Homo sapiens: one gene and its partners. The protein of the gene in region 4 purifies or fractionates together with the protein of the main gene of each other region. This does not show direct contact. Each region holds a gene or a part of one and is shown on either strand. Other genes may lie near its edges.

Evidence for each region.
Region 1: the proteins of RNF41 (region 4) and CLEC16A purify together in Homo sapiens (affinity purification with mass spectrometry; 3 studies listed by BioGRID and IntAct, with this or other methods). This does not show direct contact.
Region 2: the proteins of RNF41 (region 4) and IGF1R purify together in Homo sapiens (affinity purification with mass spectrometry; 2 studies listed by BioGRID and IntAct, with this or other methods). This does not show direct contact.
Region 3: the proteins of RNF41 (region 4) and MTCL2 purify together in Homo sapiens (affinity purification with mass spectrometry; 3 studies listed by BioGRID and IntAct, with this or other methods). This does not show direct contact.

What each region holds. Positions count from the first base shown.
Region 1 is NC_000016.10:10,947,561-10,954,585, reverse strand, and holds part of CLEC16A (protein CLEC16A), read right to left. Parts: intron 1-7,025. UniProt on the Homo sapiens protein: Regulator of mitophagy through the upstream regulation of the RNF41/NRDP1-PRKN pathway. Mitophagy is a selective form of autophagy necessary for mitochondrial quality control.
Region 2 is NC_000015.10:98,707,522-98,714,546, forward strand, and holds part of IGF1R (insulin-like growth factor 1 receptor isoform 1 precursor), read left to right. Parts: intron 1-40; coding exon 41-586; intron 587-7,025. UniProt on the Homo sapiens protein: Receptor tyrosine kinase which mediates actions of insulin-like growth factor 1 (IGF1). Binds IGF1 with high affinity and IGF2 and insulin (INS) with a lower affinity. The activated IGF1R is involved in cell growth and survival control.
Region 3 is NC_000020.11:36,860,531-36,867,490, reverse strand, and holds the start of MTCL2 (microtubule cross-linking factor 2), read left to right. Parts: upstream 1-3,952; 5' UTR 3,953-4,146; coding exon 4,147-4,833; intron 4,834-6,960. UniProt on the Homo sapiens protein: Microtubule-associated factor that enables integration of the centrosomal and Golgi-associated microtubules on the Golgi membrane, supporting directional migration. Preferentially acts on the perinuclear microtubules accumulated around the Golgi.
Region 4 is NC_000012.12:56,204,915-56,211,939, forward strand, and holds part of RNF41 (E3 ubiquitin-protein ligase NRDP1), read right to left. Parts: intron 5,655-7,025; coding exon 5,383-5,654; intron 3,385-5,382; coding exon 3,249-3,384; intron 2,836-3,248; coding exon 2,732-2,835; intron 2,397-2,731; coding exon of another isoform or gene 2,393-2,396; exon of another isoform or gene 2,254-2,392; intron 1,885-2,253; coding exon 1,533-1,884; 3' UTR 1-1,532. UniProt on the Homo sapiens protein: Acts as E3 ubiquitin-protein ligase and regulates the degradation of target proteins. Polyubiquitinates MYD88. Negatively regulates MYD88-dependent production of pro-inflammatory cytokines.

The DNA of each region.
Region 1 (7,025 bases), on a different chromosome or scaffold from region 4:
TGTCTCACCAGTAAAATGTAAACAGCAATGGTACCTGAATACTTTAGTATCTACCTATTTTGGTGGTGTTGGGAGATAACAGATAACTAACTTGGCAGTTACTATGTATGATACAAGTGCTAGCTATTGTTATTGTTGCCCTTATTAAATAATTTCTGGGGGAAAAAGACCTAGTAACTACCAGAAGGCCCTTATAGGCAGAGAGGGCAGGGCGGTAAGTCCTGAAAAAAAGATTCTAGGAGCCCCCACGTGCCTGGTTCTCTGCGAGGGCTTCATGTGACCTACAGACTCACAGTAACCTGAAGATGTGCACACTGTTGCCACTGCACAGGACAAGACAGCAAGTGAGGTTTGGCGACGTTCAGTAGCTCGCCCACAGACCTGTGGCCAGGAAGAAAGGTCTGAGAACTCCATTTGTTTCTTGGCCTCTCAATACTTGGTGTTCTTTGCCCTGGTCGGTGGCGCCATCTGCTGGGTATGCAGTGATATTGCGTGGGGGCTTTCTTCCAGTAGTGAAACCGGGTGCCTGTTCATATATGTTTATGGACTGTTTGAATATCTTCTTTTGTGAGGTGCCTGTGCAAGTCTTTTGCCCATTTTTTTTTTTTTGAGACGGAGTCTTGCTCTGTCGCCCAGGCTGGAGTGCAGTGGTGCGATCTCCACTCACTGCAAGCTCTGCCTCCTGGGTTCACGCCATTTCCCTGCCTCAGCCTTCCGAATAGCTGGGACTACAGGCGCCCGCCAGCACGCTCGGCTAATTGTTTTGTATTTTTAGTAGACATGGGGTTTCACTGTATTAGCCAGGATGGTCTCGATCTCCTGACCTCGTGATCCACGTACCTCAGCCTCCCAAAGTGTTTGGATTACAGGCGTGAGCCACCGCGCCTAGCCTGCCCATTTTTAAAATTAGGCTGTGTGGCTTTTTCTTGCTTTTCTTTATATACTCTGACCACAAACCCTTTACTGGAGATAAATATTGCAAATACTTTCTCTGATGGTGGCTTACCTTTTCGTTCCCTTTATACTGGGTCTTTAGATGAGTAGAGGTTCTTAATTTTAATGTAGTTCAATTTATTAATCTTTCCCTTGGATGGTGTTTCTTGTATCAAGCTTAAGAGGTTCTTACCTACCCCAAGGTTATAAGGAAATGCTTTTTACTTCTAACAAAGTTACTGTTTTACTCTTCGCATTCTGACTTTGAGTACATCTGGAACTGATTTCTGTGTAGGATATGAGGTACTGGCCAAAATTAAGTTTTTCTATATGGAAATCTACTTGACCCAGCACCATTTACAGAAAAGGCCCTCACTTCTCTACTGCACTCCAGCGCCACCATTGTCATTAATCAGGTGACTACCCATGTGGGTCTCATTCTGGATACTCCAGTTTCATTGATCTATTTGTCTATCCTTGTATCAAGACCATACTGTCTGATTACTGCAGTTTTACAGTAAATCTTGCCATATAGTAATTAAGTCTTCCAACTTCTTTCCTTCTGTTTTTCAATATTGCCTATTCTTGGCCCTTTTAATCTCCATATACATTCAAAAATCACCTTCTTCATTTCCACAAAAATACGTGCTAAAATTTTCTTAGACTTGCCCTACATCTATGGCTAAATTTGGAGAGAACTGACATATTTACAATAGTGTAACATTCTGATATTTACAGCATTTGTTTCCATGCTCACTTGACAGGAATCTTGCAGATCTATTGTTAGAGTTGCTGCTAGGTAGTCGACATTTTTTTATGCTATTGTAAATGATATTGTTTCAAATATTCATTTTCTAAATGTCTTTTGCTGGTATACAGAAATACTCAGTAGACTGCAAGCTCCAAAGCTCAATGAGGGTTACACCTTCACCTTGCTCGTCTTTCTGTCCCACAATGCCCTGGCACACCGTTTTACACAGTGTTTTAGGAAGAGATGCTCAATATACATTTGCTTGAATGTAATGGGGGGAAAGGCTGAATGGATTAAGATTTAATGTTTTAATGGTGTATCTAATTCCAGGGCTTTGGAAGATTAGGTAATTCAACCACCTCAGAGATATAAACATTTTAATAACTTTTTGTTGTTGTTGTCATTTTCTGAGATGGAGTCTTGCTCTGTCATCAGGCTGGAGTGCAGTGGCGTGATCTTGGCTCACTGCGGCCTCCGCCTCTTAGGTTCAGGCGATTCTCCTACCTCAGATTCCCAGGTAGCTGAGTTTATAGGCGCAGGCCACCATGCCCAGCTAATTTTTGTACTTTTAGTAGAGATGGGGTTTAGCCATGTTGGCCAGGCTGGTCTTGAACTCCAGACCTCAACTGATCTGCCTGCCTCGGCTTCCCAAAGTGCTGGGATTACAGGTGTGAGCCAACTCACCCGGCCCATTTTAATAAAACCTTCTGATTATAAATGTAACATTCACTTTAGAGAAGTAGGAAACTTTGACAACAATGAAAGAGAAACGGCAACCGTGGTGCCTAGAGATGACTGCTGCTGGAGTTGCAATCTATTTCCTCGGGTCTTTTTCTTTGCTATGGATATTTACATAGTTGAGGTCATGTTGCATTATCCATTTCAGTGCCAATCTTATTTCCCACCTCAGCTAAAACAAAAGCACTTTTTTTGGTTATTGACAACTGTTTGCAAATATCTGTAATGGCTACACAGTATGACACTGAAAGGACAAGCACAGTAGCAACTCTTTTGAAGGGCATTAAGATTCCTAATTGTGTGAGTGATAACAATGTTGCTATGACCATCTTTGTATGGAAAGCTGTGTCTTTATCTCAGAAAAGTTTCAAAGGACAGAATAATTACCTTGCTACTTAACGGCAGCAAATTAAAATGTTTCTCTTACAATGATAACCACTGTTAGAATGACAACGTGTTTTCTCAAACTATGTATGTACCTCAGTAAAACAGATGAAGCTTCCTATTACTGCCAGTCTCTGTCTGAGTGCTTCGTTTAATCCCAGAAACAATCGACCCTTTGGGGATGATGCTCTGGGAGCTGAGGCATCTGCCCAGGGCCCTGGTGCAGCACAGGAGGTGCCTAGGTTACAACCAGGCAGACTGAACTCCAGACCCCATGATTACAACCCTTCTAGGACTACAGAAATGCAAACAATGAAGTAAGCAACAATTTTATTGGCCAAGAATTTACATGAGGTTATGAATGCCTAACACACAAAAAATAAATTAAAAAAACACCAAATAGATAAACCAAAAAGGCATGAAAATACTATCAGATCTTATGGAAAGTCCTTATAAAAGGCTCTAACTCCCATTTGTCTGGAAAAGAGCCAGTATTCTCATATCCCCAGCAGGAGCTCTGCAGATGCAGTCTCAATATCCGAGCTTTGCCTGTTAGCTAACTCTCCACCGACAGATGAGCTTCAGAGTTTGAAATGCCTGGAGAAGAGAAACTGTAACCAACACACTCGAGGTGCATCACCAAGGATGACAGACGTAAACAAATCTGGCCTCAATAGCCTCTGCTTTCTCAAGAGTCACTAATTTCACAGGTTAAACCACTACAGTTAATAATGCCCCATATCCTTCAAAAATTAGCAATTCAGTCCATTTCAGAGACAGGAATACTAGGTCCAAGTTCATTTCAGTGACAGCATTTTCTGCACGTGCTATGCCTTGCACCATAATGAGCTTATTAGGATGCTCCTCCTTCAAGATTTTGAAATGTACATTTGCAAGGTGGGGCATGAGAAAGGATAAGCAGAATGATAGGAGGTCTGGGGGTTAGAAATTTACCCCCCAATGTCCACACAGCTCCAAATAACAATGTCTCAGGTGTGGTAGAGGGATGGGAGACACAGAGCCTGTATCTGTCTGGCCTGTTCAGCACTCGGGCAGAGGCCCTGCAGACGTTCCCCAGTGTGTCCCACTCTGTGCCCTGAAAACCACCATCTGGTCAGTGTTCAGCCTTCTGGCCAGCAGGACAAGGAGAAGCTTCACGGAGGGTGGAATCAGGCTAGAGGATTAGAGAAGGTGTTCACAGGCTGTGCTTCCCCTGGTGAATCATCCCCCAAAGATGTCAAACAGGGCCGGCAAGTGAGGCTGGGCCGGGGATGTGTAGGGTATAGGCAGGGCTATACCCTAGCTTTCTTTAGGGCTTTAGCCCTAGAGAAAGTCATGGCTGTGGCACAGGTGCTGTGACTAAACTGGGGAGAACAAGCAGTTGTTGGGAAAAGACTGGCCTTTTCTGAAAACAGAGGTCTGCCTCTCGTTCATCCTGTGACAAATATTTGTTGATTGCTTACTATCTGCCACGTCCTGTGCTGGCATACCAGTACCCAGCTGAACAAGCCATACAGGCTTTCATGATTCTTATGTTCAAATTGGGAGAAAACAACAAAAAAGATATGTAACAAAGGAAGACAATGTCTGATAGCCAAAGGACAGGAACCCCGGCCAGCTTCCTGAGGGTCTAACTCAAGGCCGAGATGAAACTTTAAGAACGCACAGGAGCTAACAGCCGACCCACTCTTTGGCGATGAGAAGTATATAATAATGTGTTAACTGTGTGGGACAGTGTGAACAGGCACAGAAGAAGTTAGAGAAGACAGCAAAACTCTTGTTGGCTGAAGTCACCAGGGCAATTTTTAGGGAAGAACTGGCATTTTCGGGATAGAGCTAGGGATTTGGATGGGCAGGAGGAAAAGAGCAGGGGACCTCAAGTGGGCAGGCGAGGTATGTGTGTGAGTGGACCACCAACAGGAGATACACCTGGATGACAGCAGCTGCTACCGTAACTCACCAGGGGACGGCAGCAGAGCCCCTGCTCCCCGCCCCACCAACACATGTGGAGGCCCACCTCCAGTCTGCCCCTCATCCAATCCATTCTGCCAGCTTCAGCCAGACCACAGCCTTTCTGTAGTTAAAAAACCTTCAGTGGCTCCCTACTGTTCTCACTCATAGTCTGAATTCCTTAAAGTGATTTACAGGGCCCCAGGGGACCTGGCCTCTGGAGACTGCCAAGCATGGCTCTGAGCTTGGGTCCTCACTTCCTCTTCACCCAGTGAACACTCCCCTGCTGAACCACGTGAGTTCTGCCAATGTGCACTGCTCCCCTTGCCCCACTAGGCTTTCTCAAATGCCTTTTCCTCTGCCTGAAACATCCTTCCTTCCACCTGACACCCCGCTGCCTGGTAACAACGACTCACCCCGTTGGTCTCCATTTAAACAGCGTCTGCCTAACAAGGATGTTCCTAACTCCCTGTGCTCCCAAACTAGATGGTGGGAAGGCCTGGAAGAACTTAGACGTGACATAGTGGGAGCCTAGGACCCATAATATGTGGCATGGTGAAGACGATATTTTAAGAAAATCAACATGGCAATATTGTACCCCAAGCTCTAACACTGTCAGTGCCACCTTAGCCAAAACTTGAAAGCACCAAGAGTAGGTGTGCGTCTGTCTACCTGCCATGGATCCATTCTCCGCCTTCTTTGGGCAATAACCCCTGATTCTCCCATGGGGAACCACTCTTTTCTCTCATTCTTTTCCACTAGCTTGAGTGGAGCTAATCCCACTCTTGCTCCAGGGAAGGGAATATGAGTGAGGAATGGCCAATCAGATCCCCCTATACCTTTGGCCAGAGTGACAGTTCAGGGGTGGCATGAGACCTTGCTGGTCCAGGGATACTCAATCTCAATTCTGGACTTCTGCTGGCAATATTGAGAAAAGAAGCTCTCTTTTTCCTCAGGAATGCTAAGCTGATATGATGTAAGCCTGCAGCCTGCCTGAAAATGACACCAACAGGAAAAAGGTAGAGCTGAAAGGTGGAAAAAGGCCGATTTCTGACGGCTCCAAACACCTGGATTCAGCCATGGTTTAGCGGGGACAGACCATTCAGTGACATGAGCTATTCAATCCATTTGAGGCTTAAGGCAATTCTAGCTGGGTTTCTGTCACTGGAACCAAAAATCTTGACCCCCACACAAAGTGGACCAGAATGAAGGCCACAATACAAAAACGACCAATTTCTACCAGCCGCAGACTTGCAGTCCCTGGTAAAGATGATGTTTCAGTAGCAATCAAACGATTCCATCACTCAGGCTTCCGCTTGGTGGTGGACATTTGTCAGTCAATGTCACAGCCTTGCCACTAATCTGGACAATAAACCACCCATGGTGTGTAGCAAATAACCTCTTGACTACTTCAATCTGCCTGAGCTAAATCACTAACTCAGTTCAGCAGACAGAGACCACAGGTATGAAGTTTTCTACCATTTAGCAAAAGTAAAACCCTAACAGGAAAATTCCTTTCCAGTTTGCAAGCTGGGAGTGTTACAAAGAATAATGAAGCTAAAAACAGTTTCCAGCTCTCTGTGCTATCTTCTCAACCTTTCTGTAAATCTCAAACTGTTCTAAAAAAGTAAAGTCTAGGCCGGGTGCAGTGGCTCATGCCTGTAATCCCAGCACTTTGGGAGGTCAAGGAGGGCAGATCACAAGGTCAGGAGATCGAGACCATCCTGGCTAACACGGTGAAACCCCGTCTCTACTAAAAATACAAAAAATTAGCTGGGCGTGGTGGCGGGCGCCTGTAGTCCCAGCTACTCTGGAGGCTGAGGCAGGAGAATGGCGTGAACCCGGGAGGCGGAGCTTGCAGTGAGCCAAGATCGTGCCACTGCACTCCAGCCTGGGCAACAGAGCAAGACTCTTATCTCAAAAAAAAAAAGAAGAGGGTTTCCAGATGCCTTGTGTATTTAAAAAATAATAATAATAAATAAATAATTCTTTTAACTATCTTAAACTTTCCCTCTCCATCCATACTGCTCTAGGTCAAGGTAAGAGTGTATTAAGAACTGTCACTTGTCACTGGTAGGGTGACCAGTTTATACTAGTTTGTCCAGGACTTTCCCAGTTTTAGCACTGAAAGTCCCATATCCTGGGAAACCCCTCAGCCCAGGCAAACCAGGACGGTTGGTCACCCGAAGTGTCAGATAAATCCCAAGCCCCTTCCTACTTCCAGCCTTGTTTCCCACAGCTATCAGCCCCCACCTGGACATGCCACAAA
Region 2 (7,025 bases), on a different chromosome or scaffold from region 4:
TCCTTCTAACTGAGACGTTTACCCTCTTGTCTCCCTTCAGTCTGCGGGCCAGGCATCGACATCCGCAACGACTATCAGCAGCTGAAGCGCCTGGAGAACTGCACGGTGATCGAGGGCTACCTCCACATCCTGCTCATCTCCAAGGCCGAGGACTACCGCAGCTACCGCTTCCCCAAGCTCACGGTCATTACCGAGTACTTGCTGCTGTTCCGAGTGGCTGGCCTCGAGAGCCTCGGAGACCTCTTCCCCAACCTCACGGTCATCCGCGGCTGGAAACTCTTCTACAACTACGCCCTGGTCATCTTCGAGATGACCAATCTCAAGGATATTGGGCTTTACAACCTGAGGAACATTACTCGGGGGGCCATCAGGATTGAGAAAAATGCTGACCTCTGTTACCTCTCCACTGTGGACTGGTCCCTGATCCTGGATGCGGTGTCCAATAACTACATTGTGGGGAATAAGCCCCCAAAGGAATGTGGGGACCTGTGTCCAGGGACCATGGAGGAGAAGCCGATGTGTGAGAAGACCACCATCAACAATGAGTACAACTACCGCTGCTGGACCACAAACCGCTGCCAGAAAAGTAAGAATGATGCTGACTGCTGCTTTCTCTCTGCCTCTCTCTCTCCTCTCCTCCTCCTTGACCTCCCTTCTCTTCTGAGTGCACGAGTTCCGCTGGGCAGGGTGCAGTCGTGTTGCATTTAGGACGTGGCATGCCTGCTGTGCGGAAGTGGTTCCCAGTGGGGGTCTTGGTTGGCTTTCCTTTGCATCTGGGACTCTTGGATTGCGGGACTGTGGCGTGGCTGGAGGCCATCATGGCTGCTGTCAAGACTGTTCAAATCACATGTTAGAAATAATCCAGCACACTCCTGGGCTAGACACTTGCTGACCTTCAGCTTTGAATTCCTGATGAGAAAGGTGACCTGGTGTGCTTGGAAGTCCCTGAGCCTTGGCAGCTGGGGGCTGCTTATGTGTCAGCTCTTTCATCCTTTGTGCGAAGTGATATTTTTTGTTCTGCAGGACTTCCTTAGTTTGAATGGACTTGGAATATGGTTAAATAAAGGGAAGGTAAAGCACTAACTCATATCCTGTGAAAGTGGTCCTTAGGTCCTAGTGATGATGTTATGATACTCAGGTGTCCTGGTTATGACAGAGCACCTGGCCCAGGTGGGAGACCTCTGGACCCATTTCTGCAAGTCCCAGGTTCAGGCTGTACTTGCAGGTAGCTGTGTAGCAGGGTGCATTTTTAAACCTCTGGGATTCTGTTTTCGTTCTTTTATACCTGTTTACTGAACAGTTGTGAAAATCTTAAGATTTCACGAGTGAAGGAACTTTGGAAAGTATTTACTGTTCTGGGGGTCAGATGGTGGTATTTTGAAGCTTCTTGTATATTTATCTGCAATATGCTTATTTTCCCTTGAGAATAACTGAGCTCTTGCCTTCATGTGATCAGTTCCTTAAGAACCAGGCTGTTTGGTATTAAAATGTGACTCTGAGCCTTCACCTTATTGCATTCAGCAATAGTTATGTATATTGGCTAGGAAGCTTTTCCTCACTGGTTTGAAGTCAGTGTGTTAGCTATAAATAGCTATTATTTAAGTGTTGGCCCAGTTAAAGATGTAAGGAACCCATGTTCTCTAGTTATGAAGAACCAAGAAACCCCAAATTGTTAGACTTGCCTAAAATAAATAAAAGGCGAGACCCCACAGGGGTGAAGTGTGTAAAGTAAATAAAGGACAGACCTCCCAGGTAGCCCTTCAGTTCCCGTTCAACCAGTCCTGAGGCAGGAAAAGGATCTGTGTACCCTGATCTGCCACGCACTTTTCTATTCTGCAGAATTGGATCAGTGCGTATGTGAACATTGATTAGTGAGGGCAGGGGTCCCACTGGCTGCAGCCAGTACCTTGTAGAGCTCTGAGAATGCAGTCAGGCCACTTTAAGGTTGGCTGGAGTTGGAGGGAGATCTTATGCTAAAGTCACTTGTGTGGTTGATTAAAACTGCCCTATCATTAAGTTACCCACTGGTTTGAGAAAACAACAAAATATATTTTTTAAATAACCTTGACATTTAAAAATTTTATCTGAAAAGTAAAAGGTGTTATCAAGGGAGGCAGCATGGAGTAGAAAAGAGATGTTGAATGTGGTGATGAGGGCCAGGAATGACCTTGGATGGGCCAGCCCTTCTGGGCTGTAGTTGGGCTTTTTTAGGATATTTCTAGGGCAGTCCAGTACATCCCTTAGTGGTGATCATATATGGGCATGAGGATGTTTTGAAAACTCATAAGCTCTTTAGAGAAGGGAGGTGCCATATGAAACGTCATTAAGTGGAGAGTTGTTCACGAACTAGGTAGGTAGTTACTTTGGTCTTGCCATAGGTTTTTGGCTGTTTCTGATGAGCTACTGATTGAAGACCCCTGGGGTAGGGGTGAGGCCTGCATTCTGGGTCCAAGTCTAAGAGTGGCGACTAGAAATGAGCAAGTTATTTAAATTGCCTGGGCCTTGGTTTCTTCATATGTGGAATGGGGTAAAGCCTGCCTTCCTCATAGGGCTGTTGGAAGATGAAAAGGAGGAAGGAAAAGCACCGTGAAAATGTTAACGATGGTTAGAAGGTGGGCTCTGCTGGTGACAGACAGAGCCTTGATATCACCTGTTGGTTGGTCACCTGCTTCCCCAAGGCCACGCCCTGCAGCCTTCTCCTTGACCATCCCAGCCCTGCTGATGTTCCTTGTGATTTCACAATGGAGTACTTATATAAAATTGGTAACTGCTTTCCGGGAAATTGACTTCCCTTCCCCTTGTCCTGAAAACTCAGGCATGGGCATATTTCTTGGAGATTTTCTAGTTGAATCAGAACTTCCTCTTGGTTTGCGTAGATTCCATTTAGACCTGCATTGTCCAGTGTGGTAGCCGCTTATTGAGTAAGCCACGTGGCTTATTGAGTACTTGAACTGTGGCTTGTCCGAATTGGGACTGCTTTAGGTGTAAAATATACACTAGATTTCCAAGACATAGTATAGCAAAAACTCTGTACACCATTTCATTAATAATTACTATGTTGATAACATGTTGAAATATAACATTTTGGATATATTAGATTAAGTAAAATGTGTTCTTAAATTTCACCTGCCTGTTTCCTTTTTATTCTTTTTTTTTTTTTTTGAGGCGGAGTTTCGCTCTCATCACCCAGGCTGGAGTGCAGCGGCGCGATCTCGGCTCACTGCAACCTCCGTCTCCTGGGTTCAAGCGATTCTCTTGCCTCAGCCTCCCAAGTAGCTGGAATTACAAGCATGTGCCACCATGCCCGTCTAATTTTTGTATTTTAACTGGAGACGGGGTTTCACCACCATGTTGGCCAGGCTGGTCTCAAACTCCTGACCTCAGATGATCCGCCCGCCTCAGCCTCCCAAAGTGTTAGGATTACAGGTGTGAGCCACCATGCCCGACTCTTTTTAATTCTTAATGTGGCTACTTGAAAATTTAAAATTACAGATGTGGCTTGCATTCTGTGTTGGTAAGCTGCTTTAGAGCATTTCTTTTAACACCAGGAGTTCTTCCCCTCATCATCTTTTTGGCTGAGTCGTCACTGCAGCGCTCATAGCCCCGCATGTACCTCTCCAGCCAGAACCCTTAGGAATCATTTGGGGAGCTCCATGAAGGGCATTGAGTCCAGGCAGAATGGCTACCTTGAGTTCAACATAAGCATTAAGATGGCCATTCGAAAACATTAAGCACAGAAGAATCCCATTCAGGTAATCTTCTGTTGGCTGGCTGTAGAACTACGGAGAACATCTGGAGAAACACGTCAAGGGTGTGTGTGAAATCGTTGAGCCTACTCGATTTTGTCGTGCTGTTGCGCGGTTTTCACTTGGCACTGTCCTTTAAACTCCTTCTGTGCCGTGACTCTGCAGTGTCTGGCAGCGTAGTAGACTCTACTCCCTCTATGGACGTGATCCCTCTGTGGGTTCTCTGCACACTTCTGTATTTCTCGGTTCTTTTTGGATTTAGGAGTGGATTTTATACATTTTTGAGTCATTCCTAAAGAGCGATTGACCCTTAAAGAACTGTGTACAGTGGTTTCCTTTCAGTAAGAACATAGTTGTGTGGCACCCCCTGACATGTGGTGTGGTTGATTCTTCTTCCTTGTCTTCCAACGCCACCCTCTTATGAGTCTCTTCCTACCCCCACAGGTGCCGCTTCTCTGTCTCCCTTCCCTCAGTCTGGCTTTTAACGGTGGTCTCCTGACATAGTCCATTCAGGCTGCTGTAACAAAATCCCATACCCTGAGTGGCTTACACACAACAGAAATACTGCTCACAGTTCTGGAGGCTGGAAGTCCAAGTTCAAGGTGCTTACCAGATTAACTGTCTGGGGAGGGCCCACACTCTGGTTCACAGAAGCACCTTTTCACTGTCTTCACATGTTGGAAGGGGCGAGGGATTTTTTTTCTGGCGTCTTTTTTATAAGGGCACTAATCCCATTTGTGAGGGCTCCACCCTCATGGCCTAATCACCTCCCAGAGCCATCATACTGGGGATTAGGTTTCAACATAAGAATTTTGAGGGGACATAAACATTCAGATCATAGCATGGCTGGAGTTCTGTCCTGGGCTCTCTTTTCACTTTCCTTGTTCTCATCTCATCCACTGGTAACTGCATTGCCTCCTGTCTCCACCTAAACTTCCAAGTATCTCCAGCCCAGAACCCTTTTGAGTCCAGGACCTGTCATTCATATCCATCCCAGAACCCTTTTGAACCCAGGACTTGTCATTCATATCAGACCACCACGAGCATTTCACTACAGCCTCTGATGGTCTTCCCTGTTTCCTCACTTTTGCCTATTTTTTTTCTTTTCTATTCCCTCTTAAGTGGGCCACACTTTTGTTCCCCTGGTTCTTATGTCAGGAATGTGGGTGTCCTTTGGACACTTCCTTCTCCAGTTGGATACCAGGCCCTTTCCCTCCCGAATGGAATGGAAATGCTGCTTCAGCTGTGTTCCTCTGCTCCTCCCCCTTACAGCAGTGACATAGCCTCTCTCCTGCTATTGTGTCCTGTGGCTCCACCGAGCACTGGGGAGCTTTTCAGTATGCACTTTTTTTTTTTTTGGAGAAAGAGTCTTACTCTGTCACCCAGGCTGGAGTGCAGTGGTGCGATCTTGGCTCATTGCAACCTCCGGGCTCCCAGGTTCAAGTGATTCTACTGCCTCAGCCTCCTGAGTAGCTGGGATTACAGGCCCGCACCACCACACCCAGCTAATTTTTGTATTTTTAGTAGAGACGGGGTTTCACCATGTTAACCAGGCTGGTCTCGAACTCCCGACCTCAGGCGATCCACCGGTCTTGGCCTCCCAATGTGCTGGGATTACAGGCATGAGCCACTGCGCCCGGCCATCTAGTGTGCACTTTGGACTGATGAGCTCCCCTACCTGAAATCCTGTAGCAAGTCCCTATAGGATAGGCATGTGGTACAGTGTGAAGCTCCTGAGTGGTCAACAGCTACCCCGTGACAACATGCCACACTCCATGTGCCACTCCCTCCCGCCTGCCTGCTGTGTCCTTGGCCCCAGTGGTGCTCTCCCGTGCTGACCAGCCGGCACGGCTCACCTGGCCGAACTCTAGCCTTGCCTTTTCCTCTCAAGGATGTAAAGGCTCTGCAGATTTCGGGAGGCCTGTCTCCCAGCACCTGATGGGACACTTTTTGCCCCACTGTAAATTCTGGGTGTATCCTCCACTGTATGCTGTCACCCCAAGGGCAAGCACTGCATCTGCTTAGTGAAGGATTTATTGTTCGGAAGATACATTTTCCCCTTGAGCAGAGAGTAGCGTATCCTGGCAGTCTTCGGTGAGCCAGTTGTACCAGGATTATGAAATGCAGATGTTTACTGTGTCATTGTTGCTGTCATTGCTACTGAGGAGTACTGACCAGAATCATCTGCAACTCTTAGTTGGCAGAGAGGACCACTATGGCGGGTAGCTCTTTTCTTTCCTGCCATTGTGGGGATGATTCCAGGCCAAAGATGATGGAGAAGTATGGAAATCATCTGAAAGGTTGAAGCTTGGCACGTGAAGCCATTCATGACTTTGTAAGGCAGTTTTGCTGAAGGCCAGTTCTGCCCTGGGAGGGACGGAGGTGAATCCTCCTGAGTACCTGTGGTTTTCTTACTTCCTGCTGAATTTACCTAAGTGCCTGTTGTTTGCTTGCTGTGGAGGCTTTCTGGTATTTCATTTCAGGTGCAGATGCCTTCACTTTCCCACAAAAAAAACCCCAACAAAACCTAAGACCTTACTGCAACTAAGTCTCCAAGTACTTTTTAACCCATTGGGATGAACAGCCTGTGGTCTGCTCAGATCACCCTGAGTGCGTGTGAGAAGGCCTGGGCTTTGCCAGGAAATCCAGGAAGGCAGGGCCGGGCTGTGTTGGAAGCTGGCTTAGCTGGTGGGGCAGCCTTATTTCAATTAAAAGGGCATTGACTGGGAGCAGCAGTCCTGGAGTTTGTTGCATTTCCTATTGCCCTCAAAATGAGAAACCAGGAAAATAGCAGATTGGAGCCTTCGAGAAGGCAGTAAATGGCTGTTTTTATTGACAAAAGGAAAACATTTTACTGCCATCTCACTGATGGCATCTCACTGACTTAAAATGAAGGCAGGTTGTAGTAAAAAAAAAAAAGTCTACATTTTTCCACCGCCACGTTCTTATATCCTTGTTTGTCAGCCACTGCTCACAAGGGCAGTGTTGTCTTGCGGAGTAGAGGCGCTCTCCTTCCCTCGTTTTCCTCTATAGGTTGGTGTGGCTGACCTGCTAGATCAAAGTGGAGGACCTGTTTAAGAATGTGTAAATTGAAGGCTGGGCGCAGTGGCTAACACCTGTAATCCTAGCATTTGGGGAGGCTGAGGCAGGAGGATCGCTTGAGTCCAGGAGCTCAAGACTGGCCTGGGCAACATGGTGAGACCTTGTTCATATAAAAAAATTTAAATAATTAGCTGGTTGTGGAGGCACGTGCCTATAGTCCCAGCACTTTGGGAGGCT
Region 3 (6,960 bases), on a different chromosome or scaffold from region 4:
CTTCCTGACTCCCCTATTTAATGAGGTTTCCCGACCGATTCCTCTAATTTTCCCATAGCCAGTTGCTTGTTTTTTAATCTGTATAATGAAAAAACAAAACAAAACAACTTTAGTTTAAAAGGAAAAAACACACCTCCTCTTGGAAGCTTTCCAGGAGTGAGTCTCCATTCAGTTTTCATCACGTTGGTCAATTTAGCAGCTTGAATGGGAGAAATGAAACCGTTTTTCTACTTGGGTAATCAGCATCTTCACTTCCTATGTTATATAATTCTTACAAGGTAATGCTTCAGTCTCTTTTGAGTAGCGCTTTCTGCAGCACACACTGTGTGTCTGTGCTGGGCACTTCGCAGCCCAATAGGGTACCACAACAGGCCCTGGAATTGGGCAGCTCTGGGTTCAAGTCAATCCCAGCCCTGCCACATCCAAGCTGTGTGACCTTGGTCACACATTCCAGCTACCCAGTGTTATGTAACAAATGACCCCAAAACTTAGTGGCCGAAAACAACAATACTTATTTTGCAGTTTGGGCAGGGTTGGTGAGACAGCTCATTTCTGCTCCACTTGTCCACTGGGGCAGCTCCAAGTCTGGGGGCTGAATCATCTGCAGGCTCACTCTCTCACATGTCTGGTGGTTAGTGGGGACCAGAGCTGGAGTTGTTGGCTAGATCACCTTCATGCGGTCTCCCCATGAGGCCTGGGCTTCCTCCTATCATGGTGGGTGAGTGGCCAGAGAGACAGAGAGAGAGAAAGAGAGAGAGAAGCAAGCTGGGTGGAATCCATGTTGCTTTTTATGACCTAACCTTGGAAGTCACAGATGAACACTTCTGCCATACTCTGTTGGTTGAGACAGTCACAAGATCTGCTGAGATTCAAGGTGGGGGCACACAGTGCCCCCACACACGTGCCGCACACATGTGCCGCTCAATTGGAGGAGCATCAGTGTCACATTGTAAGAAGAGCAATTGGGATGAGATATACCCTTTGGAAAATATTAATCAGTCACAAGAAGTATCTTCACCTTTTGGAGATCCTTTACTGAAATGTGGAGCACAGAGCCCGGCACACAGGAAGAGGCCACGCATCACACAGCTGCAGGATGTGCCGGCGCAAGGACGGTCACCCCGTCTACAATGTAGCCAGTTCTGGACTCTCAACAAGTCTTATCTCCTTTGTGGTATCCCTGGTCTGAACTGACCCTGAGTCCACAGCCCCTACGTCAGCCCCACCTAGTCCCTCCCCACCAGAGCCCTGTTGTTCTCAAGGCTTCCCTGGGTCTACAATGTAGATTCTTGACTCCCCAAATCCAAAGCACCTCAGAGCAGGTGGGACCCACAGGCCCCTCCCTGGCCAGCCATGAGTGTTGGGCCCAGAGAGGATAGGTGGTAGAGCCAGGACTCAGATCCCTGCCCTAGAAGAGAGATGCAGGCCACTCTAATCTCAGGACCACTGATGTGACCAAGGGTGTGTCAGGAGTGGCTGAGCCAGCCTGGTCTGCTATGTCCCTGCATTCACACCACCCAACACCTCCAAACCTATGTTCTGCACAGGGGCAGAAACTGAAGCACAGAGAGAGGACACACTTTCCAAGAGCTTCACAGCATCTTTCTGTGCCAGACTAGATGCAGCCTACTAGAGCCAGGGGCATCTGAGCTGGATGGACCCTGTCATCTGTTACATTAGACCAGAGCAGGTGGGGACTCTGAGGCCCGGAATGTGGGAAGGCCTGCCCTGGGTCACTAGCCTGCGGCTCCCACATCCTTCTCCAGCACTCCTGCCCACATGCCATGCCACCCTGTTTGTGCTGAGTCTTTTGTGGTCCCCCCCAACACACACTGTGTGCTCCATGAGTTCAGGCACTGACATGCCCACCACTGCGTCCCTCAGTGTACCTGGCGCCTGTGCAAACAGGGTTTGTGGACAGTCAGTGGGCCGTGAGGGGAGCTGGTGTCTTGCTAGGAGGGGGTGGGGATGCCCCTGCGGAAGTGTTTGCCAAGAGCCTGCTGAGTGCCTGCTCCTCACTTGGCCGTATGGAGGGCACCTAGCGTTGGGGTGGAGGAGCACTCACTCACCTGGATCCAGATGAAGTCATGCCTCTGGAGAGAGGGGATGCCCCAGGAGTGTATTCACAGCGTGTGGGGGAGGTGGGACAGAGACAAAGAAGTGGACCTGGTGCCTGCTGTGTCACAGGCAGGTGCAGAGGTGAAGGAAGGGAATTGGGGGAGGAAGAAGAAGGAGAAAATGGGCAGGAGGAAGAAGAGGGGAAAGAGGAGGAAAAGGAAGACTTGGAAAAGGAGGGGGGAAAGGAAGGGGAAAGATGGGAGAAGAAGGAGGAAGAAAGAGCAGGGGATAAATGGGAGGGGGAGGAGAGAACAGGAGGAGAAAGAGGTTGTAAAGGGGCAAAAACAGCCCTGCCCTTCTGGTGGCAAGGGGTGTGGGGCACCCTAAGGACGAGGGTACATCTGTGGGGCAAAGCACTCAATCCAGCTCTGCCCTGCGGTGGCTCAGGGATGGGGGCGTAGCGGCCAGGCGGTGTGGGGGCTGGGGAAGGTGTGAGAGACATGGGAAAATCAACACGGCCAGGAGCCAAGGAGACGCCCAGACGCCCGGGAGGAAAGAAAACACGCCCATCAGAGCTCAAGTCCTCCTGCACTGCTCCTGGTGGGGACGTGTGGGGTCAGGGCAACCGTCCCAGCCCATGCCAGCCCCCACGGGGGCCAAAACCGCCTTCCAAAGCATCCGCTAGGCTGACATCTCGTAATAGGTCCCCTCCATTTTATTTTTGTTTTTATTTATTTGTTTATTTTTTTGAGATGGAGTCTAGCTCTGCCACCCAGACTGGAGTGCAGTGGCGCGACCTCGGCTCACTGCAACCTCCGCCTCCCGGGTTCAAGCGATTCTCCTGCCTCAGCCTCCCGAGTAGCTGGGATTACAGGCACGCGCTACCACGCCCGGCTAATTTGTGTATTTTTAGTAGAGACGGGGTTTCATCATGTTGGTCAGGCTGGTCTCGAACTCCTGACCTCGTGATCCACCCGCCTCGGCCTCCCAAAGTGCTGGGATTACAGGCATGAGCCACCGCGCCTAGCTACGGGTCGCTTCCATTTTAGCCGTACAGAGCCTGAAACCCGGGTCGGGGGCGCATGGGGAGAAATATCCGCCGGTCAAGGTGCGCGAGCCAGGCATGCACACAGGGCTTCACGGTCCCTATGCCAGGAGAGGGAAGCCGAGGCAGGGGGAGCCCGAGCGCGCCCGGGAGGTGTGAGCTTTGGGTCCCATCGGCGCCGCCTAGACCGTGAGCTTGGCGCGTGCACCCCAGGCTTCAGTTTACGCATCTGTGCGATGGGATCGCGGCTCCGGCGATGCCGGCTAAGGGGGCGGAGTTCGCGCACGCTCGGCACGGGGCGAGGGGCGAGGCGCTGGGCGTGCATGGATGCGGGTTCCTGCGAACTGAGGTCCGCCCGGCCTCGGCCCGGGAGTCCCGGCTCCCGCCGCTCTCGCAGGCCCTGCCCGGACGCCGGGCGCAGGGGCGCCTCCGCCGGGTGCCTTCCCCGAGCGGGCAGGGGAGGAGGCGGCGGAGCGGAGGAGGAGGGAGCCCGGGCCGCGGCTGCCCGCGCCAGCCTGACCCTCGAAGGGGTCGCTGTTGCCTCGCAGATCCCTCCCTCGCTCCCTGCCTGCGTCCCTCCCTGCCGCTCCCGCCGCGTCCGCCTTTTGTTCGCGGAACCGCGCGCCCCCGAGCCGAGGCGGCGGGGCGGGGAGCTGGCGGGGCTGCGCGGGGGGCGGGCTGCGCCGGGCGGAGCCGGGGCCCGGGCCGCAGCCGGACTCGGAGCCCGAGGGAGCGATCGGCGTGCGGGCGGCGGGGGCCCGGGCGCGCTCCGGGGGCGCGGCGAGGCCGAGGGGGCGGGCGCCGGGCGGAGCCGCAGCCGGAGCCGGGGCGCCTGGAGGCGGTCGGGCCGCACTCTCCGAGCCCAGAGCAGCGGAGAGACCGCGCGGCGGGGCTTGGGACGGGGACGCGGTGTCGGGGCCGAGGTGGGCCGAGAGCAGCCGCAGCCCCAGCGGCCGGAGCCGCGCCGGGTCCCTCCCCAGGGACGTCGAGGCCGGGCGGGCCTGGGCCATGCGCGCAGCTCGCTGAGGCCGAGGGAGGCCGCGATGGAGGCGCCGGCGGCCGAGCCCCCGGTCCGGGGCTGCGGTCCCCAGCCCGCGCCTGCACCCGCGCCTGCCCCGGAGAGGAAAAAGAGCCACCGCGCGCCGTCGCCGGCCCGGCCCAAAGACGTGGCCGGCTGGTCGCTGGCTAAGGGCCGCCGCGGCCCAGGCCCGGGCTCAGCAGTCGCCTGCAGCGCCGCGTTCTCCTCACGGCCGGACAAGAAGGGGCGCGCAGTGGCTCCCGGGGCGCGCGGTGCGGGTGTGCGGGTGGCCGGGGTCCGCACCGGGGTCCGTGCCAAGGGCCGTCCGCGCTCGGGTGCGGGGCCGCGACCGCCACCGCCGCCCCCCAGCCTCACGGATAGCAGCTCGGAGGTGTCGGACTGCGCGTCGGAGGAGGCGCGCCTGCTGGGCCTGGAGCTGGCGCTGAGCAGCGACGCCGAGTCCGCGGCCGGGGGCCCGGCGGGGGTCCGTACGGGGCAGCCGGCCCAGCCCGCGCCCTCCGCGCAGCAGCCCCCGCGGCCGCCCGCCTCCCCGGACGAGCCGTCGGTGGCCGCGTCGTCGGTGGGCAGCAGCCGCTTGCCGCTCAGCGCCTCGCTTGCCTTCTCCGACCTCACCGAGGAGATGCTGGACTGCGGGCCCAGCGGCTTGGTGCGGGAGCTGGAGGAGCTGCGCTCGGAGAACGACTATCTCAAGGTGGGGGCGCCCGGGTAGAAAGGGAGGTCGCAGGGGTCGCCGGCTGTCACAGTCCCGCGGGCCTGAGGCACCAGCCGGCCCTCCTTCCCACTGAACAATCCGGAGAAAGGGGCCCAAGCCCTCTGGGGACCACTCTGAGGTGGATCTGGGGCTCCCTCATTCCCCCCGCCCCCTCTCAACTTTATTTGGGAAGCGCGCTCCTGAAAAAGACCTTGGAACTGGCTACAGGGCCCTAACCTGGGAGCGGGGACTTGAGAAAGCTTTGGAGCGTTCTGGGAGGCGTTGCTGAGGTGGGGGTGGGTAGCCAGGGAAGGGATGGATCTCTGCCTTCAGCTGCCCAGAACCTCCACGCCCAGGCTCTCCTTCTTGGGACGGGATTGATAGACACCGCCGCCAGGGAAACCTGTGGCCATCCCCTGCCCAGGAAAGGCCTGAATGCCATCCTGAGTCGTTACCCAGGGCTTTCCCGGGCGCAGGCCTGTCTCTGCCTGCCTTTCTGGGCGGGTCCAGTTTGAAAGCATGACATCTGGGAACATCCCCTTGGCTGGAGTCCACTTCCGCCCAGCCTAACGGTCCCACAGCCTGGAGGATGATGTCGTGGGAGAACCGGTTCAGAGGCAGCTTCCTAAATCCCAGGACAGTGTCTTTTGCCCTCCCTGGGGCAGACCTTGTGCACACAACAGCCCCATTGGCCCCTCGTGGCCAGTGCCTTTCCATGTTCGCAGTGAGAGGAGGGCAACTGCCCACCTGGAACAGGACTTCCCTGTGGCCATGTGGGGACCCTAGGGCTTCCCCCGGACAGCAGGCTTTGCCTTTGCTTTTTCAGTGGACATGAGCACCTACTGGGTGCCAGCCGGGCTCCATCTGCACGCTTCCAGGTGCCATGGCAGCTTTAGGGACAGCCCAGCTTGCACGTGTTGACCTCTCCCTGGGAGGCTGGAAGCTTCCTGAGCTCTCCTGCCGCTGGCTGGGCACGGTTTTGGAGGAGGCTGAAATGTTGCCGACTCTTGTCAGTGGATGATGGCCTGGCACAACACCCAGAGTGCCCCTGGCTGTGGAGCTCACAGCATGCTGCTGGTTTATGTCTGCCCTCAGCACTTAGGTTTTAACTTTTCCTTGTGGCTCTTCTGACCAAATGGGCTTCTCCCTCATTAGAGTGTTGGTGTCTTGCTCAACTATGTCTCTGTCTCCCCATTTTCCCCGGGATCTGCTCTCCAGCCTGAGTTCTGTAAATGCTTGTAGTATGGAAGGACAAGGTCTGTCTGAATCAAGAGACACCTTTCCCCAAGCCAGGCCTCAGTCTCCTCATCCGTTAAATGGGAGGATGTCTTCCCAAGGGCCGGGTTCGGTGTTGGCAACTGGGAGTTCAGTCGGCTCTTTGAGTCTTCAGAAGCCGGTGGTAAGGAGAGGGCAAGTGGAAGGTGAGGAGGAGGAGGGAGGTGACGAGCCAGGACAAGGGTCTTTTGCTCCTGCCCTCTTGGTGCTCTGAGCTGCTTCCAGTGAGTGCTGCCTGAATTGGCCTTAACCGAAACTCTGAGTTCCTCACCCCTGCCTCCCGGTTCCTGCTACTCACTCTGGTGAAGGGGGATGGGTTGCAGAGCTTTGCTTCAGGGCTCCTAGGCACCCATCTCCATGGGCCCCTGTCCATCCCAGGAAGTCATCAGGCTCTGACCCAAAGTCTGTTTGAGGCACCCATGACTGTTTAAAGGGGAAAACAGTCCCAGGAGGCTGGGGGTTGAGCCCGGGATCTCACAGGGGCCGGGGTCCAGCTGGGGACATCCCACGTTTGGGCCAAGATGGAACCGTAATTTCCACCATTCATTCAGTGGCTCAGGCTTCGTGCTGCTATTGGATCTGGGGTCTGTCGCTTCCTGACGGCGTGATCTTTGGCAAGTTACTTAAAGGCCCTGGACCTTTGCTTTCTCATTTGTAAAAATGGGACAGTAACACGCTTTCCAACCTCAACGGTTAAATGAGCTGATTCCTGCAAACACCATTAGAGCACCTGGTATGTAGTAAACCTCTGATCACTGCTCTTGTCAGAGGCACGGGACATGTTTCCATGTGCACCCAGCCTGTTCTCTTGTGGATTCTGTGAGGGCAGAATAGATCCTCTTCATCACCCAA
Region 4 (7,025 bases):
CTCCATATTAAAATAATCACACCTATTATCTCTCCCCTTCTCTTACTCTGCCAGTCACTCTAGGGATCAAGGTATACCCCAGGTAACCTGAAATGGAACTGAAGTCCCCAGGGGGGTGTGGGTGAGACACGGCACAGCCTGTACTTAGAGATAAAATTTCTGATTTGCATGGTGAAGCTTAGAACCCAGCTATACAGCTCCAAGGAAACTTGGGGAAGGGGGAGTTGCCTTCAAAATGAATACTCTAAATCCAGAGTTTTATGATAAGGCCCTGGAAGGGCTAGGAGGAAATTTTTCCAGAGGGCACAGGCATCGATGCTGGACTGTCATATCCTTCACAGGAAGAGAGGAAGCTCCTCATTTCAGTTGGGGTTACAGAGGTTTGGGGCAGATATCGTAAGTTCAGCCGAGGACTCCCTTGGCTCTTCCTATATTAAAGCCAAAGGTTGTGCTGAAAAGGAAAAAATATAAAACACACCCCCATCCCTGTCCCACCCTATCCAGAACCCCCACAATAGGAACATCAAAAGAAAAGTTTCAAGTTTGATTTTTTTTTCTTTTTTCCTTTCTTAAAAAAAAAAAAAGGAAGTAAATAAATTAAATTGCCAACAATGTGGCTGAGATAGCCATGATCAGGCCATTCTTAAAAAAAAGAGGGGGGGGGGCAGTAGGTGGAGTTTGTGAAATATAAACAAACAATGGCCAAAGAAAATTATCAAAGTAACTAACTACAGTCACAGGGCTAGAGAGGGGTCTATGGAACAATTATGGCCTGTGCCACAAGAGGCAGTGCCAACCATATTTTAGCAAAAGCTAGGAGTAGCTTCTTGCTAAACACATCAACCCCCAACAGATTAACCCCTACCCTAAACCCTGGCATTCCCTAATTATGAAAACTTGTAGGAAAGAAGAGCTCATCTGGAAATTTTCAGTATCCCAACCTGCATACTGGTAGACCCAGTGGGTGCCTACACCTTTAAGGTGGGCTGAACAGGGATACTGCTTGGCACAGAGGTCCAGTCTTTCCCTAAGGGCCATCAGTGATGGCCAATTAACGGCCTCACTACTTATTTCTAGAGATTTGGCTCCACCCTTACCATTTCTTCAGGATGTCTGCTGCTTAGAGTCAACAGGCCTGACTGCTCTGATTCCCTGGTTTTGGAGGAGAGGGACGATTAGAGATTCCTTCCTCTGTCCTGATCCTCCAGGGAAATTGAATCTCTTTGTGCTTTCTGAAAATAACTGGAACCAGGGACCCTAAGCAGGAAAATGGATGGAGGTGGGGGCTTTCCCACCCAGACTGATAATTTATAGACATTTTAGGGGAATATGGCAAAGGGAGGAAATCTGGGTTTCCCACCTGAAAGGCTGAGCAAACTACCCCAAGGCCCTTCAGTGCCAGAAGGGCAGGGAGATGTGTGGCTCAGGTATAAGCCACAGTATTAAGAATGGTGGGTAGGACTCAGGTCCCAGCTGCTGGAGTGATGGGATTTTCTGATTTCCATCTCTTCCTGATAGCCAGTCGAGTTCTCTTATATCTCTTCCACGCCATGCGCAAATATCATGACAAGGCCTGGCTCTTGCACCATGTCATCCCCCATGTGCTGGTTCTCACAGGCCATCACGACAACAGCCTGCTTGCCAGGGATGCGCTTGGCCACGTAGTTCTCATAGTAGCGTCGGTTCATCTGTCTAGTCTCTAGTGTGGCCAGACCCTGGGGCCAGCTACGCTCGTGGGCATTTTCAATCAGCTCGTTGACAATAGAAGCAGGACAGCCACTCTCCACCAGGGAGCGCTTGATTACAGCCTGGAGCACAGCATCAGGAGTCGAGATCATCCCTCCCCAGCGGGTCACTCTTGCTGGCTGAAGGGAGTTCACCCACCTGTGTGGAGGTGGTTAAAGATGGTCATTCCAGCTCATCTCCTTTCTCTGTATTGGCTTTTTCTGCTAATAGAAATAACTACCCACTCTGCACTCAGCTTACCTATTCTTCCTTCTTTCCTTCCATCATTGGCTCAGAAACCCCAAATCTTTCCCCACTTGGTCCCAACTGAGTCACCACATGTTACTCACCAGATTAAATTCCACAAGTCTGCACTCTGTCTCTGTTACTTTTCTTTGAAATTCCAATACTTAGCACATATAGCGCCTAACACAGTTAGTGCTCTATGTTTAGTGAATAAAACAATTATTCCTCTATCCTATGTCCCACTCAGCACTATTTGCCCTGTATATATTGATTCACACTTACAGTTTACTCTATGAACTGTATAGGACTCCAGAACTGAAAGAGATCTTAGACTTCACTTGTATACTTCGCTTGTTTTTGCTGCATTTTAGAGATCACTTTCCTGGACTTGCACTCTGCCTCCTCTTCTCTGGGTTGTAAGCTACCTGAAGACAGGACGATATCTTCTATTTCTTTTTGGCCCTCCTAGCACTCCACAGCCTTTAATACAGGGCTTTGTACATGGGTACTCACCTAATTCTGGATAAAGTGCATCCTTGGGCAGGCTTTCCCTCCATCCACCCAAACACATAAGACATCCTGTAGTGGAGCTAAGGGTTATCCTCTTCTCCTCTGCCCCTGTCCTTAATGCCAATATCTGAGAAGCAGTGACCCCCAGCCCAGCTCTCCAATGCCCTCCTTCTGCTACTCTCCTGCTCTTCCTCCTTTCAGGCCTTGTTGTCAGGACATGAAATCACTCCACGTCCTGAGTGACACTCACTCTAGGATCTCGTTGTATTCAATTGTCTCCTCCAGGTTCTGAAGGTTGGGGTTGACACTGCGGATTGCACGCATGTATGCCTTTAGCAGCTGGATGTCTCGCTTCTGTTGTGGGGAAGAAGAACAGGAATAATGGTTAAGGCAGACAGCAGAAAAAAGACAAAAGTTTATCCAAGAATGAGGGCAACTGAGAGATCTGAAGAACAACCAGTTTGTAAGCTTCAGGAAGACAGGGATAAGACTGTCTCACTCACAGCTGTCTCCTTAGTACTTACAAATGTGCCTTCACAGAGGAGGCATGTGATAACTGGTAGGTGAATTAATGCTATGAATGGGATGAAGAAAAGTCAAGGAGAGCTCCAATCTGATTCCCTGCTAAGCCACAGGCAGAATATCCACTCATCTAGGCTCACAAGTGTAAGCACTGGTCTGTGTGTTCACAACTGGTTTTTATTACCCACAGGCAGGCAGTTATCTGCATATGAGGGATATGTTCTCCCCCGTGTCTTGGGGCCTACCTGCTCCGCCAGCTGGTGTTTGTGTTCAGCTGACGTCTTCTCCAGCTCTGCGATGCGTGTCTGCTGCTGCTGTACCACTGAGCGCAGGTGCTTAATGCAGTTATGGTTGGGCAGCTCATCTTTGGGCATCTCCAGGCTGCAGACCAGGGTGGGGAAAGAGCAGAACAGAGGTGATCCCTGGGACATGTATGCAAATGGCCTATTCTGTGGCAGATAACTGCTAAGTAGATTTTGTCCTACCCAAAATTTCTAACATTCATTTCAGGCCTCCCTCTTGTTTATTCCCTTCACTTTCTTCGTCCAAGCTTCCTACTTGCCCCTTTGCTGTCTATTTTCCTTAAATTTCTTTCCCCAATCAAGACACAGTGTTTTATCTATTTTTTAAATTTATTTTATTTTGTATTTTTATTATTTTTTTTGACACGGAGTTTCGCTCTTGTTGCCCAAACTGGAGTGCGATGGCATGATCTCAGCTCAGCGCAACCTCTGCCTCCCAGGTTCAAGCGATTCTCCTGCCTCAGCCTCCCGAGTAGCTGGGATTACAGGTGCGCGCCACCATGGCCGGCTAACTTTTTGTATTTTTAGTAGAAATGGGGTTTCTCCATGTTAGCCAGGCTGGTCTCAAACTCCTGGCCTCACGTGATCTGCCCCCCTCGGCCTTCCAAAGTGTTGGGATTACAGGCGTGAGCCACCGCGCCTGGCCTTTTTTTTTTTTTTTCGAGACCAAGTTTCACTCTTGTCACCCAGGCTGGAGTGCAATGGCACGGTCTCAGCTCACTGCAACCTCCGCCTCATGGGTTCAAGTAATTCTTGTGCCTCAGCCTCCCGAGTAGCTGGGATTACAGGTGCCCACCACCACACCTGGCTAATTTTTATATTTTTAGTAGAGATGGGGTTTCACCATGTTGGCCACGCTGGTCTTGAACTCCTGACCTCAGGTGATCCGCCCGCCTCGTCCTCCCAAAGTGCTGGGATTACAGGCGTGAGCCACCGCACGGGGCCTATTTATTTATTTTGACACACTGTTTTTATCTACTGCACAGCTCTCCTTTTCCTCCTACAGATTCTGCCTGTGCACTTATTCCTTCAGAGAAGCCCTATATTCACAGCCCCAGCTATCAACATTCTTTTTATTTTTTAGTTAGGGGGAACAGAGTCTCATTCTGTCACCCAGGCTGGAGTGCAATGGCGCGATCTCAGCTCACTACAACCTCTACCTCTGGTTTTAAGTGATTCTCATGCCTCAGCCTCCTGAGTAGCTGGGATTACAGGCGAGCACCACCACACTTGGCTAATTTTTTTTTTTTTTTTTTGAGACGGAGTCTCGCTCTGTTGCCCAGGCTGGAGTGCAGTGGCTCAATCTCTGCTCACTGCAAGCTCCCCGTCCCAGGTTCATGCCGTTCTCCTGCCTCAGCCTCCCAAGTAGCTGGGACTACAGGTGCCTGCCACCACGCCTGGCTAGTTTTTTGTATTTTTAGTAGAGACGGGGTTTCAATGTGTTAGCCAGGATGGTCTCAATCTCCTGACCTCGTGATCCACCCGCCTTGGCCTCCCAAAGTGCTGGGATTACAGGCGTGAGCCACCGCGCCCGGCCCCACACCTGGCTAATTTTTGTATTTTTAGTAGAGACAAGGTTTTGCCATGTTGGCCAGGTTGGTCTTGAACTCCTGGCCTGAAGTGACTTGCCCACTTCGGCCTCCCAAAGTGCTAGGATTACAGGTGTGAGCTAACATGCCCTTCAGCTATCAACATTTAGTCGAATATTTCATAACCCACAGAAATAAAAAAATAGGGCAAGAGGAAATATGAGAAGGCTGGCAATTATAGCAGTCAACCTGACAAACGGAAAGTAGTATTGGACTGAAAGGGAAGAATAGAGTCAATCAAGCTTTAATGTTATTACACAAATTTACTAAATTGCTGTGCCCCTTCTTTTGTTAAAGCAAGAGCAAAATGATTATAGTTGGAAAAGCAGCAAGAAAGTAAGATCTTAGAGCAGGAAGCCAAGGAGGCTAAGAATACTCCTTGCCAACATGCCAAAGAGACCTCCTCAGCTAGTGAGGAGGGCAGCCAGAGACAGGGGCATAAATGAGATGGCCCTTATCCATGTGGGGCAGAAGGGAACAAATCTCACCCACAGCCCTGTTCACAGGTCACAGGCCGCTTCGGGTTGTGCTCACAGTCGCTGAGGTGAGACATGAGGTTGTCAAGCCGGACAACGGCACTACAGCCGAACACAGCGTTGTCACAGGCAATCTGCAGCTTTGACAACATGTTCCGCATGATCCGAGGTACTGGGCGCAGATGGGCGACCGTCACAACACTACGGTCCACTGGACATGTCTGTTGCTGAGAGAACCACTGGGTGATGCAGGCGTTGCAGAAAGCATGTTCACAATGAGGTGCCTAGAAGAGAGAACAAGGCAAAAGGGGCGCAAGGGAATTAGCAGGACCTAAGAGCCTGGATATGATATAACTCTACAAAGCCAATCAAGCCTTTGAGCAGCCTCTACGACAAGAGGTCCACTGGGTCACAGCAAAGTATAGATCTACTACGGGCAAGGCATTGTAGGGGACAGGCTTAAGATACGTTTCCTGCTGGGCACGGTGGCTCATGCCTGTAATCCCAGCACTTTGGGAGGCTAAGGCAGGCACACTGCTTGACCTCAGGAGTTTGAGACCATCCCAGACAACATGACAAAACCCCATCTCTACAAAAATTACAAAAATTAGCCGGGCATAGGCCGGGCGCAGTGGCTCACGCCTGTAATCTCAGCACTTTGGGAGGCCGAGGCAGGCGGATCATGAGGTCAGGAGTTCAAGACCAGCCTGACCGACATGGTGAAACCCTGTCTCTACTAAAAATAAAAAAATTAGCCAGGGGTGGTGGCGCATGCCTGTAATCACAGCTACTCAGGAGGCTAAGGCAGGAGAATAGCTTGAACCCAGGAGGTGGAGGTTGCAGTGAGCCAAGATCACACCACTGCACTCTAGCCTGGGCAATACATCTCGAAAAAAAAAAGCTGGGCCTGGTGGCACGTGCCTATAGTCCCAGCTAGCCAGGAGGCTGAGGTGGGAGGATGGAGGATGGCTTGAGCCCATAAGGCGGAGGTTGCAGTGAACCAAGACTGCACCACTGCACTCCAGCCTGGGTGACAGAGCCAGAACCTGTTTCAAAATAAATAAATAAATATATATATATATATTCCCTGTGCTCAAGATTAAAAATGAGTTGTGAAACAAGACAAACAAGTAAAAAGTTATATAACAATAAGAGATACAAATGATATTCTAGGACAATAGGACAGATGACACAAGGCAGCCAATTATTAATTGCCATCTGGATTGCATACACAATAATTGCCAAAAATGTCCAGAGGAGGGTGAGGTCTTTTCAGGCTAGCTCAATCACGGCAGGTATTTATGAAGAGGACAGAATTTGATATGGGTCTTGAAGGATAATTCAGATGATAGATTTAGAGAGGAGGAGGACATATTTACTGGCAAAAATTCAATGTAAGAAAGCTAGGCCAGGCATGGTGGATGGCGCCTGTAATCCCAGCACTTTGGGAGGCTGAGGTGGGCGGATAATGAGGTCAGGAGATTGAGACCATCCTGGCTAACATAGCGAAACCCTGTCTCTACTAAAAATACAAAAAATTAGCCGGGCGTGGTGGCGGGTGCCTGTAGTCTCAGCTATTTAGGAGGCTGAGGCAGAAGAATGGCGTGAACCTGGGAGGCAGAGCTTGCAGTGAGCCAAGATCATGCCACTGCACT